2 separate regions of the Homo sapiens genome follow, and region 2 is linked to region 1. Evidence: fine-mapped expression QTL. Tissue or cell type: whole blood. Region 1 holds a variant in brackets; the other region holds the start of a gene. Each region is shown on its reference strand, or each on the opposite one.

Region 1 (11,109 bases):
GTGTCACGATCTGTGTCCAAATTTCCTTCTTCTTCTAAGGACACCAGTCATGGGATTAGAGCCCTAATTCAGTATGACTTCCCTTTCACTTGATTACATCTGCAAAGATCCTATTTCCAAATAAGATCCCATTTCCAAAAAGGGTTCCAGATACCCGAGAATTTGAACATACACGATTCAGCCTACGACAACCAGTAAATGTTTTTTTATTGTCATGTATTTCAATGTACATCCACGACATATAATTAGCACATCAAACAAAATGATTTCACTGATACAGTATGATTGCTTAAGCTGACTAATGGCTAAGATTAAAAGACATGAGTTAATGTAAAGGAATATCTTGAGTAGACAGTTCTATAAGTGTTACTCAGACACAGTAGAAATTGTGAAGGTGGTAAATTAATATTTGGAATGCATTGAGCTAGCCCCAACCTATCTCTTCAGGCAGGGTGTTGTCTAGAAAAGAAACTATGGTAGATAACTGAGTCTTTTATTTGAAAGCTTCCCCAAAGAGATTTTACAATCTCCTTTAGAGTGAGGCCATTGTGCTATGAATCTCATTGCCTAAAAGTTCCTCCTTACATCTAGCCTCAATTCTTCTTGCTTCAGTTAAAACACATGACTGCTGGACATGTACCCTTTACACTATCCAACATGTTAGGTCACCTCAACATCCAACATGAGGCAGATGAATTCTAGGTATGCAGAACTACTAGGAGCTTAAGAATTTAATTGAACTGTGACATATGTTTCTTACCTAAATCCAATATTTAAAGTCAGTAAAAAGAAAGGACCAAGTCTGTATCTGGAGAGGGAACCCCCACTTTTCAAGCGCTTTTGTGGCTGACTGGTGAGCAAACACCAGATGGGGCCAGCCGACCTGTTGGAGGATCTAACTCCTGCACACAGAGTCCCGGCAGACCGTAGGGCTCACAGGCGAAGGCACTCATGGTCGAAATTTCCTCCTGTGTCCATACAAAATCGTTTTCCATCTGAAAGAAGCTGTCTTGTCACCCTGGCACTGCTCATCAACAAGAGGCTCCAACCCAGCCTGTGTGAGGCCATTTAATTGCAGTGGAGAATGCCAGCTTAACAAAGCAAGGTAAATGAGTGGCTTTTTACTCACTTCTGTAACCCTCTGCATCCAGCCAAGAGACTAATGTTGCCATTTAAGAATCATTAAATCTTTTCCTCCAGAAAAAAAGAATGATCTGCCTTTTGCACAGTCACGAGAGCATGCTTAAATAGAAAGGAAAACACACACGTGGCCCCATCAAAGAAATCTGCCACATTTTCAAGGTTTGGCGTCCTGGGAGCTTTCAGGACAGACTGATGGTCCTTTTTCACCATCGCTAAACCTGCTTGTGGACTATGGTTCCCTCCAGCCACTGTGTATAAAGCCTGCCTATTAGTGAGGCCAAAGAACACTCTAGAAGCATGTAAACCCACTCAAGCCTCAAGGCATACCTGTTTGCATATGAACCTGAACTGTGCCTAAGCCTTCCGGTTTAGGGATCAAAGCTTCAGGGTTCTGAGTCCAGAGTGTGTGGATTCCTCCCTTGCTCCCTGATCCTTGCTGAAGCCTGGGGTGGAGATAGGGTTAGGTAATGCCCCTGCATCCATGGCTTCCAGGACACCCAGGTGCAGCCCATTTCTGCTACAGTCCTGGAGGGTCAGGTGTGAGCCCCTGAAATGTAGAGAACCTCCAAAGAGAGAAGCAGAAAGAGGAAGAGGTGCAGGAGAAAGCCACGAGCCAGAGAGAGAAAGAGAAAGTCCCAAAACAGAGCGGCAGGGAGGGGAAAACGGACCTTATGTATAAAACTATAGATGCTCCTGACCAAGTGTCAGCTCTCCTCACTTAGGACACAAGGCTTAACTGCTTACAGCCCAGTGGGCTCGGACTATTGATTTTATTTTTAAAAACTAAACTGGCATTTTACCTGGATTCACTAACCAAATGAAGTCCTGAAACACAACAATTCCACTATGCAAAATTATTCTCACATAATACCTATTAAGGCAATAAGAACCACAACATCTAGTCTTAGACACTATTTGTCATCTCTAAACAGTTCTGCCTGTTTGTCTTTCTCTCTCTCTCTCACCCCCCACTTCCCGCATCAGTCTTCCCAGTTGAGGGAGCAGCTGCAGAGTGAGCCCTTTCCACAATCAGCACGACCACCTTCCTCCAGACTGGGAGCCCTGGCCTTGCTCAGGATTGATTGCCTGACCCCTTTGCCGGTCTGCCCAGCCCTGCCGACCCCCACACCCTGCCCAGGCAATGGTCAGTGTCCTGTGGCCTCCGTGTGTGAACAGTTTGGTTCGGCTTGCTGACAGAGATGGCAACATCAGAGATTCCTAGCCCTGAAACCCAGATTAGAAAAGGCAGGAGTGCAGTTCGCAGATTTGTAGAGCTGTGGAGCAGCTACCCCTCTTTGCTTAGCCAGGTGCCATCACCTAGATAGTACAGGAAAAGGAGACCTGCGAGGAGAGGGGCAGGAGGGAGAAGGCGCAGGAAGCAGTAGCAGGTGCTCGTGCCAGCTGCACCTCTTTTACTCAGAGCCCAGACACAGGTGCTTCGGTGCCTACCTTGGTGGTTGTGTCTCTGCCACCCGGCAGCCTCTCCCACTGTCCTCTGGGGGACCGCCGGTTTCCAGCACGTGCTTGGTGCTGTGGGATGCAGAGGGGCCTTCTGCTGTGAATCTCTAACGGACTTCCTGGTGACCAAAACCTGAAGGTTTCCTCCCCTGCATGCAGCCTTTCACTGAGGCTCCTGTGGAGGTTTGCAGATTTTCTTTTCTCAAACTCAGTCCCGCCCCTTGTTCTTGCAGATAAGGGAGTTTTCCCTTAGGGCCCTCTGTGGCCTCCTGGCCCAGCCTTTCTGGTTCAAAGGGCACAGGGCCATACTACCTATGAGGCTGAGCATTTCATTTGCTTCAATTAAATTTTCCATTAACTTGGTCTCTGGCCAGTATGGATTTTCTCTCTAAGGTTGTCTCTGCAGTTCAGATCACTCAGCCCTGAGAATCAACCTTATGACTCCCCTCTGGTCCATTTAAGTACATTTCTATTTTTTCTCCCCTAATGAGATGCACAGCAACCGACCATAATTTTAATGCCTGACACCTGAACTTCTTACATCCTCTCAGATGTTTCTGGTTTGCCTAAGACTTTGTTCTAAGCCTAGGGGTTGATTTCCTCCTTTGGAAATTTTGACCAAAGGCATTTTTGACCAAAGTCATCTGTTTGGGATAATGAATGGCCTTTCTGTGCTCTCGGGAGGAGAGCAGGTTCCATACCACCCTCCATATGATCTCGCAGCTTTGCCAAACCTCCACGCCAAGCTTATGAGAATTCCCGAGAGCTGGGGGAGGCGAAGTGGGTGGGACATCCTGTGGTCACGCTGTTTCCTCCACAGCCCCCACAATTTTTTGGTCTTTCATAGAACCTTGGGGAAATTAAAAGTGGTCCTTAATCAGGAAAATGCTGAAGTTCCTGGAATAGAGGACGCCTTGTAAGTTTCCTTTCTAAATGGACATCTCGACTTTGAGAGAGGTTCACAGCACTCCTAGCATTGCTCACTCTGGTGGAGCAAGTTGCTGTGCTGTGAGATGCTCTGCAAAGGGACCCATCTGGCAACAAACCAACAGCTCATTGGAAACTCAGTCCTGCTGACAACCATGTGAAAAAGCTGGAAAAGTGGGTCCTGCCCTAGTTGAGGTTTGAGATGCAGCCTTGTGAGAGATTCAGAACCAGAAGGCCTGTGGCTGCACCTGGTCCCCTGACCCACAGAAGCTGTGAGACCCTAAATGTTATTTTAAGCCCCTAAGTGTTGGGGGTAATTTATGACACAGCAAAAGATAACTATTGTGGACAGAAGAAAGGAAGCCGTTTCATTCCTCTTGATTCTGCATGTCCAGATTGGAAGTTGTCATTATTAACTCAGCAGTAGCTAGGATAGATCTGGTACAGAGTATCTGCCCACTTCTCTGCCAGGGAGTTTATGTTTGTTTGTTGTAGTTTTTTTCAGCAAAGGGTTTGTTGCTTATGAATGAAACACAGAAAGCACCACTATTAGGAGAGAGTTCATGAAGTTCATCTTAGAAGCCTACTGGTTTCCTAAGCTGCTTCAGCTCCTCTTGGCATGGTTTGCCATTCTAACCCTAGTTCTCAAGCATGGACAACAGATAATGGTGTGAGTAGCCTGCAGATAGCAGTACCTTAGGGTCCGCCACAGGGGCTCAGGGTTGTGGTCCAGGGGAATAACCAGAAGGGGTCTCTAATACAACCTGTGCAGGTCCTGGAGGCCTCGAATGGCTGCATCTCACATACCCTGTCCCTTTGTTTCCACCAGTCCTTGTGCTTCCACTGTTCTGAGGTATAATCAGAGAACTTGGTTTCCAACCCCTTGGATCTACTTAGATGCCTGGCCCATCTCCCGGACCTACTCTTCTGTCAGAGGCAGGAGCCTCTTTGGACAGGCTCATCAGAAACAGAACATCTTCTGCAGTGGACACAGACACAACTATTTGATAGAGAGGCTGGGAGACCCCCGGCCATCTGGCCAGCTCTAATGGCTCACGGAGAATCGAGGAGTGGGGGCGCCACATGAGGGACTGTTCGCCTCATGGAACACAGGAGATTTCCAGTAGATTTTGTTATTTGAGGAGTGGGCATAGGGTAGAGGTAGGGGTGTCTTTCAGAGGATTCCTGGGGTCAGCCTTCTAGGAAGAAGGAGTCCATTTGGCCTCTTTTTTTCAGGCTTTTTATCTCCTCCACACCCCCAAACAGTAGAAAGCCTGCAAGGGGTTTACCACCAGCATCATTCTACTCCTCAAGTCTCAGGTGCTGGCATCTTTAATCCACAAAATAAATTGTGATTTAGACAAGAAGAGTGTTCACTTCTTTTGTTTGTTTGTTTGAATACAGTTACTTTCTACCAAAATTTTATCAAAGGGGTCAACGTGACTCAATATTACTCTAGTTCATATTGAAGATACCTTGGGCGATTAAAACAACTTAATTGGAACATTCATTCATTGGTTAATAGTTATGGAGTAAATAACTTCCTCGGTATCTACAGGACATGAGAGAGAACCTGAGCCTTACAATGCAAAGGGATCCAATCAA[C/T]TGCTGGACATAATAGAGAATCCATTTTAAATTCTACGAAATGCAGGCTTTTCTCTGGAGGCACCTTCTTTAAAAAAGAGATTACATTTTTCCCTTTTAGTTCAATATTTTAAAATATGTACAGATATCATAATTTAATGAAAGATATCACTGAAAATATAAAGCTTTTCCTAAATGAATTTACATAGGCACATGGGGAGAATTAGGATGAGGACTCCTACCCTGGAGAACACTCCCTATTCCATGGTGTAAGGGTTCTAGCTTGGCCTCTATGGCCCTAAGTGTCAGGAAAAATATGAAGGCTTTTGTATTTTCTACAAAACTGATGGACACTTTTTAGTTTCTTTTTGTTGTTGTTGTTGTTATTGTTGTGGTTTTTGAGAAGGAATCATGCTCTGTCACCTAGGCTGGAATGCAGTGGCACAATCTCAGCTCACAGCAACCTCCACCTCCTGGGTTCAAGAAATTCTCCTCCCTCAGCCTCCCGAGTAACTGTGATTACAGGCATCCACCACCACACCTGGCTAAGTTTTGTATTTTTAGTAGAGACACGGTTTCACCATGTTGGCCAGGCTGGTTTCAAACTCCTGGCCTCAAGCAGTCCACCCACCTCGGCCTCCCAAAGTGCTGGGATTACAGGCGTGAGCCACCGAGCTCAGCCTCTTTTTCAACCTTTTCATCAAAACCTTCTGCAAGGATTCTTAAGACCAGAGCTTGTCAATAGTTTATTCTCCTTCCAAATGACCTCCTTTCCAATGCTCAGCTTGAGAATGAGACAGCTCATTTGTCCATGTGGCCCTTGGCTGTGACAAACACAGCTCCACAATGTTCCAGTCATGTGGCCTGCACTGGGACACAAGCAGGTGCAAAGGCATCTGCAGGAACGCACCTCTCTTCATTCCTTTCCTTTCTTTCTGTTTTTGAGGGCGGGGGGATTCCAGTTCTGTTTTTTTTTCTTCAAGTTTTTTTTATTGTGGTAAAACACATATCACATAAAGTCATGGCCCGACACAGTGGCTCACTCCTGTAATCCCAGCACTTTGGGAGGCTGAGGCAGGTGAATTACTTGAGCTGAGGAGTTCGAGACCACCCTGACCAACATGGCAAAACTCCATCTCTATTAAAAATACAAAAATTAGCCAGGCATGGTGGCAGGCTCCTGTAATCCCAGCTACTTGGGAGGCTAAGGCAGGAGAATCACTTGAACCCTGGAGGTGGAGGTTGCTGTGAGCCGAGATCACGCCACTGCACTCCAGCCTAGATGATGGAGCAAGACCTTGTCTCAAAAAAAAAAAAAAAAATTATCATCTTTACCATTTCTAAGCATACAGCTCAGTGATATTAAATACATTCAAAATGTTGCATAACCATCATCAGCATCTATCTCCATAACTCGTCTTGTAAAACTGAAACTCTATACCCATTAATCAAGAACTCCCCCTTTATTTCTTTTCTTTTTCTACCCATCATTCCACATATTAATTCAAACACTAGATCAAACTCTGCCACTGTCTGGTGGAGTAGGCTACTTGTGTGGGTTTTGTAGAAATGAGGAAGTTCCCTGGCAGCTGGAATGATGGGCTGTGCCTGCCCCGTGGTTGTCATCCAGCCCCGATGTAGCCAGAACACAAGGACACGGGGAAAACATCCCGTGTGGGAAAGGCAGGAAACCCAGGAGGAGAAGAGAATTGATCTTCCTAGAGTGTAGTTTCCTCCTTGATTTTGCTAAATGAGGGCTGGGGTTTGTTCTGTTCTTTCACATCTTTGCTAGAAGCAACACAGGTGTACCACAAGCCCCTTGTGGACATCTATTGTGTGCAGTCAGCCCTCTGAGCTGAGAAACAGGGATGCACACCCCACGCAGCCAGTGCTGGATAACGGGCCTTACAGACAGCAGAAAAACTTGGAATAAGGAAAAACTTGGAGAGGAAAAGCAAAGGGCCGGGGATGAGAAGACCTGCTCTCGGTTTCCTCCCTGCTGCTATCTTGCTGTGTGTGTGGCTCTAAACAAGTGACCTGGGCCCTGTGCGCCTCGCTGCATTACCAACAGGGGAGCTCAGCACTATCTGCCAACTGACTAAATGGATGGGTCCATGTAATGAAACTCATGCCTCTTGATGAACTCTGTTCCCTTTTAAAAATAAATGATCTTTTGTAAAGATAGACATTCTCCATATATTCTCTGTAATGTTATTCTACTAGATAAATGTGTTGTTGGATAGGAAGCAGGTTTCATTTCTCAATGCTGAGTGTATAGGTTCAACCGTAATGGAACACTGTGAGTGACTATTACTGGGAGGGTGTTCTGGTGCCTGCTCAAAGACCACCAGCCAAGGAAGGAAACAGTAAGCCTCAAGAATAAATGTCCGTTCTCATCTTCCACCCCCTGCCATCTGTATATCAAAGAAGCTACTCAGCAAAAGTAAACAATCTGTCCCCATTATGCTAAACCTTCAAAAGGCAGGAAACCAGCAACTAAATTAGATCTTGCAGAATAGTTCAACTCTCACATTTGTGGTTTCCAAAGATCTCCTACTCTTGGTGAGCAGACAATTTGTTCTGTCGTGTTGCATAGAATTCAAGTCAGTAGGTATTTACTGCGTGTTTGCTGTGTTTCAGGCTCTGCTGGGGACCCCCAGGTCTATCTAGCAGGAAGAAGAGATCTGGATGCAGAGTCCTGCAATATAAAGCAGAATCAAATGCCATTGTGGACGTGGAAATAAGGATCTGGGGAGAACAGAGGGATACCTTCTTCGGATTGGGGAAGGTTTACAGGGCACCAGAGACCATGCTTCAGGTGCTTGCTGGCCATGGGGAGAAATTTGTTTGTTTGTCATCATTCTTTCCTATCTTTCACCCTCTTCCCCAGATATGCAAGCCTTGTCTTTCTCCCCTGGATTTATACAAGTGCCACCTCGATCCAACCACTCTGCCCTTCATGCCCTTCTCTTCCCTTCCAGCCCACAAAACACCTCCACTCAACACTGGATCATCTTCAGGGGCCACACTTATAGCAGAGAAGAACCATCTTAGCACAGACAGACTTCCTGTACTGAAAACTTGGAATAAGTTTCTCTGTGTGAGCAGGACTCTGCCAGCCCACCCACACTCTATCACTCAGGGTGTGGCCCCCGCCCTATCAGCTGCACCAATATCAGCAGCACCAGTATTACTTGGGCACCTGTTAAAAGGCAGACTGTCTTGTGGAATGATAGACAATGCAGGCTTGTAATGGTGAGCCGGGTGGGAGGGAAGAGGAGAATTACATAATGGGTACAATGTACATTATTTGGGTGATGGGTGTCCTAAAAGCCCTACCTTCAGCGCTGTGCAATCTATGCATGTAACAAAATTACATTTGTACCCCAAAAACTTGTACAAATAAAAAATTGAATTTAGCTTAATTAATTTTTTTTAAAAAAAGAAATGCAGGCTTTCAGGCCCCACCCCAGCTTTACTGAACCAAAATCTGAATTTTAGCAACATACTCAGGTGGTTTCTGCACATTAAAGTTTGAGAAGCACTGGCTAAAGCATATTTATACTTGGGTCTTTTTAAATTTTAACACTCAAAGGCAACAACAATTTTCCCCGTGGTCATCTCATGACTTCTGACAGAGCCACCAGTGTTATCAAATCCATCTTTCTGCCTCCATTCTCCTAAAACACCCAGGGAGCTGTGTTACTTCCCCAAACACAAACCACCTTCAGATGTCAGCTAATAGAATTGGAGGGAAATAACTAAGTTCCTGGTCTCAGGCCAAGAACTCTAACTTCCAGGCTGAATTCAGGCAGCAGGGAAGCCTGAAGGCTGATTTTCCCTAAGCACAGGAAAAATATCATTTGAATAGGGAGTTTATAACTTTGGGAGGCCGAAGCGGGCAGATCACCTGAGGTCAGGAGTTCAAGACCAGCCTGGGCAACATGTCAAAATCCCGTCTCTATAAAAATACAAAAATTAGCCAGGTGTGGTGGTGCACACCTGTAATCCCAGCTACTTGGGAGGCTGAGGCTGGAGAATTGCTCGAATCCAGGAGGTGGAGGTCGCAGTGAGCCGAGTTCGTACCACTGCACTCCAGCCTGGGCAACAGAGAGAGAGTCCATCTTGAAAAAAAAAGGATCGAGAGTTTATATTTCAAAAGTCTGAGGAAGAGATGTGGAAGAAGCCCTCCCTCTTCTTCAAGGGAAGAGGTCTTGCTTCTAATACAGCCACTTTGTCTTGGTGCCCATACCTTCACCTCTGGGAGGCCCTTGCTAATGCTTTGAAGGTAACCTGCCCTCCCGCTGTACAGGGCTGTTCTCTGCCACCTCCAGCCCGGAGCTGTCAGCCTGTAAGGGACCAGCGAGAACATCTTGCTCCTACTCCTCCAGGTGGCCAACATTCCCACTAATGACCCTAACAAGTCACACATATTTGTCACCAACAATGGGGAGATCATTATCACCTACCTTCCAAGCAGCCCCTTCAAATTCTGAGTGGCTTTGACATTTCAAAGCTCTTTACAATGTCAACTCCACCTGACTCCCAAGGGAACTATCTTCTGAGAGTTCCATCTGGTTATTTAACTGCTAAGTTCTCTACCTGGGAGAGTGTTCCTTAAATCTATGCTTCTCTAATGTGTCTTCAAAGCACCTGGGGATCTGTTGTTTGAAAGTTTGGCAGGGCCACTGAGATTTTTGGCTTTGGTGGGTGATAACAATGCCCCTGACCAGAGTTTGAGGGACAAGACCTTAGATTTAATTCAATCTACCTTTTACTTATTTAGTCTCAGTTCTGTTCTACAGGACCACAGAGAACAAAGCCACCTGACCTGCTGTCATATACTGGAACATAAAATCACATCTTTCCCAAATCTTCTCTTTTTTTCTACCAAAAACATCCCAGTTCTTTCCATAGTTCCTTAGCTGTCATGGCTTTGCATCTTCTTATCATGTGATTAACTGTCTTCTGGAAATGTTCCAGTGAGTGTTGACAAGCCCTTTAGGTGCATGGCACCAATCCTGGAACTCTTCAACTTGAACAGAACAACCCTGGGGCCAAGCAGAACCAGGCATTGTCCTGATGCAGATAAGCCCATGACCTTACAATCCTGTTCGGGAACAATGTGGTCCTATGGATGTATGGAGCCTCAAACAAAAAAAAACCTCCACCCTTCCCTCATACAAATGCATATGCCTTTCTTGTCACAATGGTGAGAAAATGGATGATAAACTAATTCATCCTCTAACATACTGGTAACTTGACATGTTATTTAAAGAAACTTTGACAAGGCGATCTTAAAGAGACAATGTCTTACTCTAAAGGCAAACTCCCTAATGGCGTCATTGTAGGGCTCATGACAGACTGGTGGGAAAGACATGTGGGGTGAGGGTACTGCTCAGAGCTTACCATGCCATCGCTGCTTCCTCCACTTTCCCCAAGGCTCCCTGACAAGCAAAATTCACAGCACTCAGCTCTGCTGAGAAATCAGTGCCACAAGGTTGGATAATTTAGAGCAATTTATTTTTTCAAAGTAGTTATGAGCTAGGAAAGGGCTCAAGAGAACAACTGGGGTCATTACTTCCAAACCTCCCAGCTGACTGGGAGGAAAACCAGCTTTCAGATGGGGACATCAGCTTTTAGGAAGGAAGGCTGTCATCCTCCTGGAATAAGATGTTAAAAGGAAACCATTTTAGGCTCAGTTTTAGCTGAGCTGCAAGACAACAGACACCATATACCACAATAAAGTGTGAGACCACCATGCGGGTCTTGTAAAAAGAGATGGTGGAAAGCCAGTTTTACACCAACAGATGACCACCCACATCCATCCTGCAAACGAGGTTGTAGAGGCGGAGAAACAGTTTAACTAGAAGAGAAATTTTGGAGAAAATGATCCAGTGCATGGCTTCAGTGTGAACACATGAATAGCTTGAGATCTGTCCTCTGGAGCTTGAGAGACAAGCTCTAAAAGATGGCCCTTGGCTGGCAGAACAAAGG
Region 2 (11,109 bases), not on the chromosome of region 1:
ACCCCAAAAGTGGAAACAACCCAAATGTCTATCAACTGTTGAATAAATAAACAAAATGTGGCATATCTGTACAATGCAATGCTACTTGGACGTAAAAGGAATGAAGTATTGATACATGCTACAACATGTGTAAACTTTGGAAGCATTATGCTGTGTGAAAAGCCAGTCACATAGGCCACATGTAGTATGATTCCAATTACATGAAATGTCAAGAATAAGTAAATCCATACAGACATAAGTAGAGTAGTGATTGCCTACGGAAAGGAAATTGATGGTACTGGGGTTGGGATGGGGATGGGGGAAATGGGAGTAAGTGGTAAAAGCACAAGTTTCTTTTGGGGTAACGAAAATGTTCTAAAATTGATTGTGGTGGCTGGTTGCACAACTCTGAATATACAGTCACATGTTAAGTCATATGTTGCTTAACAACAGGAATAAGTTCCGAGAAATGCATCGTTAGGTGATTTTACCATTACGGGAACATCATCATAGAGTGTCCTTACACAAGCTTGGATGGTGTAGCCTACTATACAGCTAGGCTATATGGCGTAACCTATTGCTCCTAGGCTGCAAGCCTGTACAGCATGTTACTGTACTCAATACTATAGGCAATTGTAACACCATGTTAAGTATTTATGTATCTAAACGTGGAAAAGGTGTGGTAAAAAATACAGTATAAAAGATTTAAAAACGGCATACCTATATAGGGCACATATCATGAATGGACTTTGCAGGACAAGAAGTTGCTCTGGGTGAGTCAGTGAGTGACTACACTAAATTTATTTACATTTTTTTTTTCTTTTCTTCAATAATAAACTAGCCTTAGCTTACTGCAACTTTTTTACTTTATAAACTTTTTAATTTTTTTAACTTTGACTCTTGTAATAACACTTAGCTTAAAACATAAATATTCTACAGCTGTACAAAAATATTTTATTTCTTTATATCCTTATTCTATAAGCTTTTTCTATTTTTTAAATTTTTTTAACTTTTTTGTTAAAAGCTAAGACACAAAGACACACATTAGCCTAGGTCTACACAAGGTCAGGATCATCAAGACATCACTACAGGACAGGGATTTTTCAGCTACATAATAATCTTATGGTACCTCCATCATATATGTGCTCTGTCATTGAGCTAAATGTGTTATGCAGCACATGGCTGTACAGTTGACCCTTGAACAACTCAGGACCTAGGGGACTGATACCCCTCACAATTGAAAATCTGTGTATCTGCAGGGTGGGGAACACCACACATTGGGGCCTGTCGTGGGGTGGGGTGGGGGGAAGGATAGCATTAGGAGATATACCTAATGTAAATGACCAGCTAATGGGTGCAGCACACCAACATGGTACATGTATACATATGTAACAAACCTGCACGTTGTGCACATGTACCCTAGAACTTAAAGTGTAATTAAAAAAAGAAAATTTAAAAAAATATATATGTGTGTCTGGCCAGGCATGGTGGCTCACGCCTGCAATCCCAGCACTTTCAGAGGCCGAGGAGGGTGGATCACGAGGTCAGGAGATCGAGACCATCCTCACTAACTCGGTGAAAACCCATCTCTACTAAAAATACAAAAAAAAATTAGCCGGGCGTGGTGGCGGGCGCCTGTAGTTCCAGCTACTCGGGAGGCTGAGACAGGAGAATGGCATGAACCCGGGAGGCAGAGCTTGCAGTGAGCAGAGATCATGCCACTGCACTCCAGCCTGGGTGACAGAGCAAGACTCCGTCTCAAAAAAAAGAAAAATTAGCTGGGCATGTTGGCATATACCTGTGGTGACCACTACTCAGGAGGCTAAGGTGGGAGGATTGCTTGAGCCTGAGAGGTTGAGGCTGCAGTGAGCTGTGATCGCACACTACACTCCAGCCTGAGTGACAGAGCAAGGCTATCTCAAAAATAAAAAATAAAATGAAAATTTCTAGAAAAGGAAATACAGAGGCTCTTAATTATAAGAAACAAAAATTCAACCTCACGCAGAAAAGAGTAAGTAAGCCGGGCACGGCAGCTCATACCTGTAATCCCAGCACTTTGGGAGGCCGAGGCTGGTGGATCACCTGAGGTCAGGAGTTCGAGACCAGCCTGGCCAACATGGTAAAACCCTGTCTCTACTAAAAATACAAAAATTAGCCAAGTGTGGTGGCATGCGCCTGTAATCCCAGCTACTCGGGAGGCTGAGGAGGGAGAATCGCTTGAATCCGGGAGTCGGAGGTTGCAGCAAGCCGAGATAGTGCCACTGCACTTCAGCCTGGGCGACAGAGTGAGACTCTGTCTCAGGAAAAAAAAAAAAAAAAAAGGAAAAGAAAAAGAAAAGAGCAAATAAAAAGCACAGGATAATACTACTTTGCCTCTTTCTGTGTCCATGGAGCAGGCCCAGGAGCAATTACTCCCCAGTGATAATCACATCCAGCATTCAGATCTTGGTTTTTAAATACCATCCTCCTCACAAAAGACCAGTGCTTCTTTGAGAAATAACTAAGTTCGGGGCTGGAGCAGGGGAAATACAAGATGAGCCTGGAACATCTTCTTGTAGCAGAAAGTAAGAAAATGCTCAAAGAGTGATGGAGTTGTGTCAAAAGGAGACAGGAGCCAGCTTGCAGGTGCTCCCCCAGCCAAATCTAGGGCAATTTGAACATCAAAATACACACCCAGGTATTCACCCAAGAGAAATAAAAGCATACGTCCACACAAACCCATGTACACAAACAGTTCATAGTAGCTTTATTTCTAACAGTCAGAAATTGGAAACAACCCAAACGTTTATCAACAAGTGAATGGATAAAAATATATGTGGTATATCCATACAATGGAATACTACTCAGAAATGGAAATGAACTGCGGATGCATGTACAACATGGATGACTCTCCAAATAAACATGCTGAATGAAATAAGCCAGATGCTGAAATCCCATACATTATAGGATTCCATTTACACAAAATTCCAGAAAATGCAAACTATTTGGGAGGCCAAGGTAGGCGGATCACCCGAGGTCAGGAGTTTGAGACCAGCCTGGTCAATATGGTGAAACACCGTCTCTACTAAAAATACAAAAATTAGCCGGGCATGGTGGTGCATGCTTGTAATCCCAGCTACTCAGGAGGCTGAGGCAGGAGAATCACTTGAACCTGGGAGGTGGAGGTTGCAATGAGCCAAGATCAAACAACTGCACTCCAGCCTGGGCCACAGAGTGAGACTCTGCCTGAGAAGAGAAGAGAAGAGAAATTAATCTATACTGACAGAGAGCAGATCAGCGGTTACCTGAAGATGGGGATGAAAGAGGGGCGAATGGATTACAAAGAAACACAAGGAAACTGATATAGTTTGGATGTTTGTCCCCTCCAAATCTCATGTTGAAATGTAATCCTCAATGTCAGAGGTGGGGCCTGGTGGGATGTGTTTGGCTCCTGAGGTCCCAACCCCTCATCAGTGGCTCAGTGCCAACCCCTTGGTGATGAGTGAGTTCTCGCTCTGGCAGTTCACGCAAGGTCTCTCTTGCTCCCTCTCTTGCCATGTGATACACTGCTCCCCTTCGTCTTCCACCATGATTGTAAGCTCCCTGAGACCCTCACCAGAGGCCAAGCAGATACTGGTGCCATGCTTCCTGTGCAGTCTGCAGAACTATGAACCAATTAAACTTTTTTTCTTTATAAATCAACCAGCCTTAGGTATTTCTTAACAGCAATGCAAAAGCCTAACACATAGACATGTTCATTATCTCGACTGTGGTAATGGTTTCCCAGGTATATACTGTGTCAAAAATAATCTATATACTGTAAATATGTAAACCTTCTTATATATATTATACCTCAAAGAAACTGTAAATAAATAAATAGGGTATTAGGTTACAAATCAGTGAATAAAATAGGAATCTATGCATCAATAATAATATGAACACATAAAAGACACATAAAACCAAATATTGCTGGTGGACGTGTAAATGGGTACAATCACTTTGGAAACCCATTTGCTATTATCTACTAAATCCAATACATTGTTAAGAAGGGGGGGAAGCAAGGTATACAAGAGTGTGTACAATATACTACTATTTGTAAAAGAAAAGGGAATATGTATATGTATATATGTACATGGATCTAAACACGTGGTGTGTGTGTTCCCTGCTCGTTCACAGGTCATCTCTGGAAGGATTCACAAGAAATTGGCAATATGGCATTTAGTGCCTCCAGAGAGGAGATCTGAGTGGTTGGGTCACAGGAGTAGAAGAGAGAATTTTCCCTGTAATCTCTTTAGTATCTTTTTAATTTTGTACTAAGTGAATGTACTGCCTCTTCCAAAAAAAGTTGTTTAATAATGTTTTGTAAAAAGAATTCTTCTCAGCCAGGCGCAGTGGCTCCCAACTGTAATCCCAGCACTTTGGGAAGTCGAGGTGGGTGGATCACCTGAGCCCAGGAGTTCAAGACCAACCTGGGCAACAGGGTGAAACCCTGTCTCTACAAATTACAGAAAAAAAAAAATTGCTGGGCATGGTGGTATGCACTTGTAGTCCCAGAAAATCAGGAGGCTGGTGTAAGAGGATCACTTGAGCCTAGGGACATTGAGGTTGCAGTGAGCCCAGACTGCTGCCACTGCACCCCAGCCTGGGCAGCAGAGACCCTGTCTCAAAAAAAGGAAAGAAGGAAAGAAGGGAGGAAGGGAGGGAGGGAGGGAAGGATCTCTAAAAAGTGGCTATTCTCTGACCTCACTTCCCCCTATTTGTCCAACTTACCCCATTCCCCACAGAACTAAACTTCTCACCCTTTCCAGGAGAGGGCATGCTGTCTCTGTCCTGTACACCTACTTTTTCCTCTGCCAAGAGCACCCTTCCCTTCCTATGGCCCCTCTGAAGTGCCTGACCTGAGGACGAAATGAGGCCAGGATATGTCCCATGAGTCAACTCTGTCCCCAGCATTCACCACTACCAACCCACCCCCAACGCCCTGCCAGCCCCCGACACTCCCCCGCCATGAGTCTGTCATCTGAAACATATCCCCTTACCCCTTCCCACTCCCTCTGAGATGACTCAGCAGCCCCTGCCCCCCTTCAGCTGGGCACAGTGCCCCAGAACTCAGGAACATGGGTACCACCTGTCCCTCCGCCCACATAAAAGTCATTGAAGAGCTTGTGGGGCTGTGGGACCTGCGCCCTCTGGAGGAATTCCATACACCCACTCAACTCTGGCAAATAGGAAATTGTCAAGTAGGAGACAAGGAGCAAAGTCCTATCACAGCGGGAGGGGACGCCAGCGCCTGCAGAGGCTGAGCAGGGAAAAAGCCAGTGCCCCAGCGGAAGCACAGCTCAGAGCTGGTCTGCCATGGACATCCTGGTCCCACTCCTGCAGCTGCTGGTGCTGCTTCTTACCCTGCCCCTGCACCTCATGGCTCTGCTGGGCTGCTGGCAGCCCCTGTGCAAAAGCTACTTCCCCTACCTGATGGCCGTGCTGACTCCCAAGAGCAACCGCAAGATGGAGAGCAAGAAACGGGAGCTCTTCAGCCAGATAAAGGGGCTTACAGGAGCCTCCGGGAAAGTGGCCCTACTGGAGCTGGGCTGCGGAACCGGAGCCAACTTTCAGTTCTACCCACCGGGCTGCAGGGTCACCTGCCTAGACCCAAATCCCCACTTTGAGAAGTTCCTGACAAAGAGCATGGCTGAGAACAGGCACCTCCAATATGAGCGGTTTGTGGTGGCTCCTGGAGAGGACATGAGACAGCTGGCTGATGGCTCCATGGATGTGGTGGTCTGCACTCTGGTGCTGTGCTCTGTGCAGAGCCCAAGGAAGGTCCTGCAGGAGGTCCGGAGAGTACTGAGACCGGTAAGCAGGGTGGGAAGGGGATGGGTGTGGGGCAGGCAAACGCAGCATCAGCCGCCCCAGGGTTCGGCCCCCAGAATGGGGCGTCTGAGGTAGTAAGTAGCACATTAGACACCCCATCCACCTCTACCTGCTGGTGAATAGGAGACATGACCAGTGCCATGACGGGGCACAATTGGGTGCTGTGGAAGCAACAGGAGGATCACCTACCACCATGGGACAGGGAGGGGAGTGGGGAGGACACCTAAGGAACTGAGGTTTAAATCGAGATCTGTGCTTGGGAGGCTGAAGCAGAAGGATGACTTGAGCCCAGGAGTTCAAGACCAGCCAAGGCAACATAGTGAGATGCCGTCTCTACAAAAAAAAAAAAAAAAAAAAATACAAAAGCTAGCCAGGCGTGGTGGCACATGCCTATAGTCCTAGCTACTCAGGAAGCTGAGGTGGGAGGATCACTTGAGCCCGAGTTCAAAGTTACAGTGAACTATGATCGCACCACTGCACTCCAGCCTGGGCCACAGAGTGAGACCCTGTATCAAAAAAAATAAATAAATAAATAAAAAGAGAGAGAGAGAGAGAGATCTGAGGGATTAAGCAGAGTGTGGACGGGGTGGGGAAAATAAAAGAGTGTTCTAGGTAAAGATAGTAGGGGAAGTAGAGTAGAATCCATCAGACTGTGGAGAGAACGTTCAGAATAGTTTCCAGGTTTCTAGCATGAGCAACTGAGGGGAGAGCTGATGAAAAGTGCCATTTGCTGAGATGGAAGAAAGCTGTTTTGGACTTACTAGGTTTGAGATCACCTAGGGAGAGTATAGTGAGGCGAGGAGCTTGAGGAACCCCAGCTTCAGTCAAGAGTTGGGCCTGAGGTTTCCCTGGGATGTTCACAGCGATGTCCAGGAAGCAGCTTGTGCATGCATCTGGGTTTTGTGAGAGAGGTTGTGCGTGTATCTCAGAATACAATAAGCCCAGCTGGGCGAGGTGGCTCACGCCTGTAATCCAGCACTTTGGGAGGCAAGGCAGGTGGATCTCTTGAGGCCAGGAGTTTGAAACCAGACTGGCCAACATGGTGAAACCCTGTCTCTACTGAAAAATACAAAAAGTAGCCGGGCGTGGTGGCTCATGCCTGTAATCCCAGCTACTTGGGAGGCTGAGGCAGGAGAATCGCTTGAACCTGAGAGGTGGAGGTTGCAGTGCGCCGAGATCACGCCATTGCACTCCAGCCTGAGCAACAGACTGAGACTCTGTCTCAAAAAATAATAATAATAATAATAATACAATGAGCCCTCCACTCCTGTTTCTCAGTTTCCCCTTCTGCATGCCCTCGGTTATTCTGGTCAGGCTTTAAAGATCTCCCACCAGCCACTCCTTTCAGTTATGAGGTTCTTCACATGCACTTTGAAGGCGGTAGCAGGGGATGCAGAAAAGGTCAGGGGCACGACAGTTTGCTCCATGAACTCTCAGACCAGCAGCTCCCATTTCACCAAGAAGTTTGACTGTCTTGATCAGCGCGATAGGGAGCAGGGTCAGAATGGAGCCAAGTGACACTAACTCTCTCATCCCTCCCAGGGAGGTGTGCTCTTTTTCTGGGAGCATGTGGCAGAACCATATGGAAGCTGGGCCTTCATGTGGCAGCAAGTTTTCGAGCCCACCTGGAAACACATTGGGGATGGCTGCTGCCTCACCAGAGAGACCTGGAAGGATCTTGAGAACGCCCAGTTCTCCGAAATCCAAATGGAACGACAGCCCCCTCCCTTGAAGTGGCTACCTGTTGGGCCCCACATCATGGGAAAGGCTGTCAAATAATCTTTCCCAAGCTCCAAGGCACTCATTTGCTCCTTCCCCAGCCTCCAATTAGAACAAGCCACCCACCAGCCTATCTATCTTCCACTGAGAGGGACCTAGCAGAATGAGAGAAGACATTCATGTACCACCTACTAGTCCCTCTCTCCCCAACCTCTGCCAGGGCAATCTCTAACTTCAATCCCGCCTTCGACAGTGAAAAAGCTCTACTTCTACGCTGACCCAGGGAGGAAACACTAGGACCCTGTTGTATCCTCAACTGCAAGTTTCTGGACTAGTCTCCCAACGTTTGCCTCCCAATGTTGTCCCTTTCCTTCGTTCCCATGGTAAAGCTCCTCTCGCTTTCCTCCTGAGGCTACACCCATGCGTCTCTAGGAACTGGTCACAAAAGTCATGGTGCCTGCATCCCTGCCAAGCCCCCCTGACCCTCTCTCCCCACTACCACCTTCTTCCTGAGCTGGGGGCACCAGGGAGAATCAGAGATGCTGGGGATGCCAGAGCAAGACTCAAAGAGGCAGAGGTTTTGTTCTCAAATATTTTTTAATAAATAGACGAAACCACGAAACCACTAGACTGATGGCAGCAAACTAAGGTCAGATGAGAGGGGAAACTAGAGAAGGAGCAGCCTGAGTCAGTGACACAACCTCCTCCCCGACCCTCTAGGTTAAGGCACTTCCGGGGAGGCAGGTCCTTGGGGTCCTGTTACACAGGGTGAATGGGAGAGGAAGGGATTAGGATCCCTTCTCCCCACCTTTGCATCAGGACACCCCTGCCCTTCTCACCCTACCCCATGGCCCTGTCCCTGATTTACCCACTCTCATCTCACAGCACTCTAAGGGGAAGTTGGGTGGGAGGAGTTCTTGTGGGTGGGAGAGGTCTGTGCCCCTGAGGAAGCCGATCCTGCCAAATCTTGATGCGACACCAGCAGCCCACTCTACCCTCTTCATCCCAAGGAGCCATCTCTGGGGAAGGGATGGAGGGCAGCCACAGGCCAGGCTGGGACATGGGAACCTAGGCGGTGCCTGGCCCTGGATGCCCATCGGGGCCCAGCTCGGGATGCCCGTCAGCAGCCAGGATGGGGTGTGCATCCGGGCCCTCCCGCCGGGGGCTGCCCCAGTTGTTCCTCAGGATGGTGCCCGTCTTCTCCTCCTTGAACTGCTGTCGGTCTTCCCGAGGAATCTTCACCGCATGGTACTGGGGCACGGTGGCCTCGGGGTGCTTCGCCCGTTTGAAGAATCCCATCTATAAGGACACCAGGCCAGACCATGAGGAGCCTGAAGAGCTGCGGTCCCTGGAGCAGATGCCTAGCGCGGCACAGCTCCTCACCCTCACCATCCCTGCTGCGGCAGAAAGGAAATAGGCTGAATAGCATCTGGTGTGGTGGGCAGCACCCACGGTGCTCCCATCAGTGCTGTGTCCCCAGGTTCTCATTCACAGCAAGAGAGAGACCAGAAGGGCGTCCAAGAGGCAGGACCAAGGGTATCTCCCTTGGCCCCTGAAAGAGGGCCTTGAGGGTGGAGCATCAGGACCGGACTCAAGATTTGTACCCCCTCTAGCTTCTTAAGAGACCCAATAGTGTCCCCCAGAACACAAACAAGACCTGAGGAAGAAAATGGCTTCCTAGTCCCCTGCATCTCTGGAATGATACCTCTCAAGCCTCATAAACATGCACCCCGTGTACTTGTACCTTGGGCGGCACGCCCCTTACAGCAATACCCTCTTGTCCATCAATACAGTAGTCTAGCCCCACCCTAAATGAGGACCATGCTGGCCCTTACACACCAGGGTGGGAATGTGCCCCTGCACACTCACACTCAGAGGCCCAGGACTCCTACATGCTCAGACTGCATGGCATCTCCTTACACATTCATCTCCTTGCACACTCATGCCCATAGAAAAAAGCATGCATGCGACCTCCCCACACTCCCACATGCTCACACCCCATGAGCCCACCAACCCTTTGTGCACGCCTCAGGCTGTGTAGACTTACCCTTATATCTGCACCCTTCTAATTACCTCTCACCTCACATCACTCTCATGCAATCTCATTTTTCACCCTGAACATTCCTGATCCCCTGAATGCTGGGAATTCTCCTTATATTCACACACATACATACCCACACACACTAGACACATGCACACACACAACAGTTACCCCACAGTCCCTGGACCCCCAACTTCCATGGCTGAAGGCTGCACAGCCAGACAGGCCCGGTGATAGTTGGTGGGAAAAGATGAGCTCTGGCTGCTCCGATGGAAGAAGCCACACTAGGATGTCGAGGGAGAAGCAGGGCAGAGGAAGCAGAGGATGGAAAGATTGAGGAAGGACAGGATCCCCTATCTCTGCTCTGTCTTCCTTCCATGGGAGCAGGGAGCAAGCATCCTGGGACCAGTTTCACAGAGGCATCAATCTCCCCTAAGACTGGGAAGGTTCCCAACAGCTTGGATGCCACTCCAGAGCCTGGTCTACTGATGATTCACACTTGCCAAAGGGTGGCTCAGTCTCTGATTGGTCCCAAAGAGCAGGCACAGGCAGGGGCAGTTCTCCAGAGCCCCAAGGACATGTGTGGTTCTGAACATAGCCCCCGATGTGGCAGATGGCTCAGCATATGACCCCGGTGATGTATGTGATTCCGTGTACTGACGTGTGCATGTGCATACTTTTACATTGAGCCCTGGATACCAGTATGATTCGGTATACAGCTCTGGGTGTACAAGAATGCTTCCATGCAGAGCCTGGTATGTGGAAGCTCTGAGTTCCGCCATGAGGGCAGTCCCCTGGAGGCCGTTCTCCGTGCTTGTTGGCCTTCTTGGCCACATTTACCTTTCCAGTTTTCACTGCCACATTCTAGTTAAGTCAGATCACACTTCTCTGCCTCCACGACTTTGCCTACCATGGTCCTGCTGGACCCCACCTACCTCATCCCCTTACATCCTCACCCTACTACCCCACCTTCCTCTGAGGACTGGTTCCAGTGCTACCTCCTCTCAAGCTTTTTTCCCTCTAAACTCCCACTCCATTTTCTCAACTCAACACTTCCTGCCTTGTCCTTGACTACAGGCTCACCACTCCCATCCCACTGGACTATAAAATCCCTGAGAACGAGATCTGCATCTGATTTCTTTTTTTTTTTTTTTTTTTTTTTTTTGAGACAGAGTCCTGCTCAGTCCCCCAGGTTGCAGTGCAGTGGCGCAATCTTGGCTCACTGCAACCTCCACCTCCCGGGTTCAAGCGATTCTCCTGTCTCAGCCTCCCAAGTAGCTGGGATTACAGGCACCCCCCACCATGCCCAGCTAATTTTTTTTATTTGTTTGTATTTTTAACAGAGACAGGATTTCACCATGTTGGCCAGCTTGGTCTTGAACTCCTGACCTCAGGTGATCCACTCACCTCAGCCTCCCAAAGTGCTGGGATTACAGGCATGAGCCACCATGCCCGGCTTTTTTTTTTTTTTTTTTTTTTGAGATGGAGTCTCGCTCTGTCACCCAGGCTGGAGTGCAATG

The links.
Region 2: TMT1B starts here. The variant in region 1 is fine-mapped to the expression of TMT1B in whole blood (TOPMed, PIP 0.98).

The regions. Positions count from the first base shown.
Region 1 is chr6:107,729,382-107,740,490 of GRCh38, forward strand. All of the region lies in intron 5 of SCML4 (Scm polycomb group protein like 4), which reads right to left. Among named protein-coding and RNA genes, the nearest start is that of SCML4, 89 kb to the right of the region's middle. The variant C/T (reference allele first, on the strand shown) is at 5,134.
Region 2 is chr12:55,676,442-55,687,550 of GRCh38, forward strand. It overlaps TMT1B (thiol methyltransferase 1B), which reads left to right and starts at 5,295. Exons shown (of 2, transcript NM_152637.3): 1 at 5,295-5,811; 2 at 7,372-8,170. The coding sequence starts at 5,314. The coding sequence ends at 7,608. It overlaps ITGA7 (integrin subunit alpha 7), which reads right to left. Exons shown (of 25, transcript NM_002206.3): 25 at 8,127-8,847. The coding sequence ends at 8,617. RefSeq lists enhancers at 4,954-5,629, 8,656-9,155.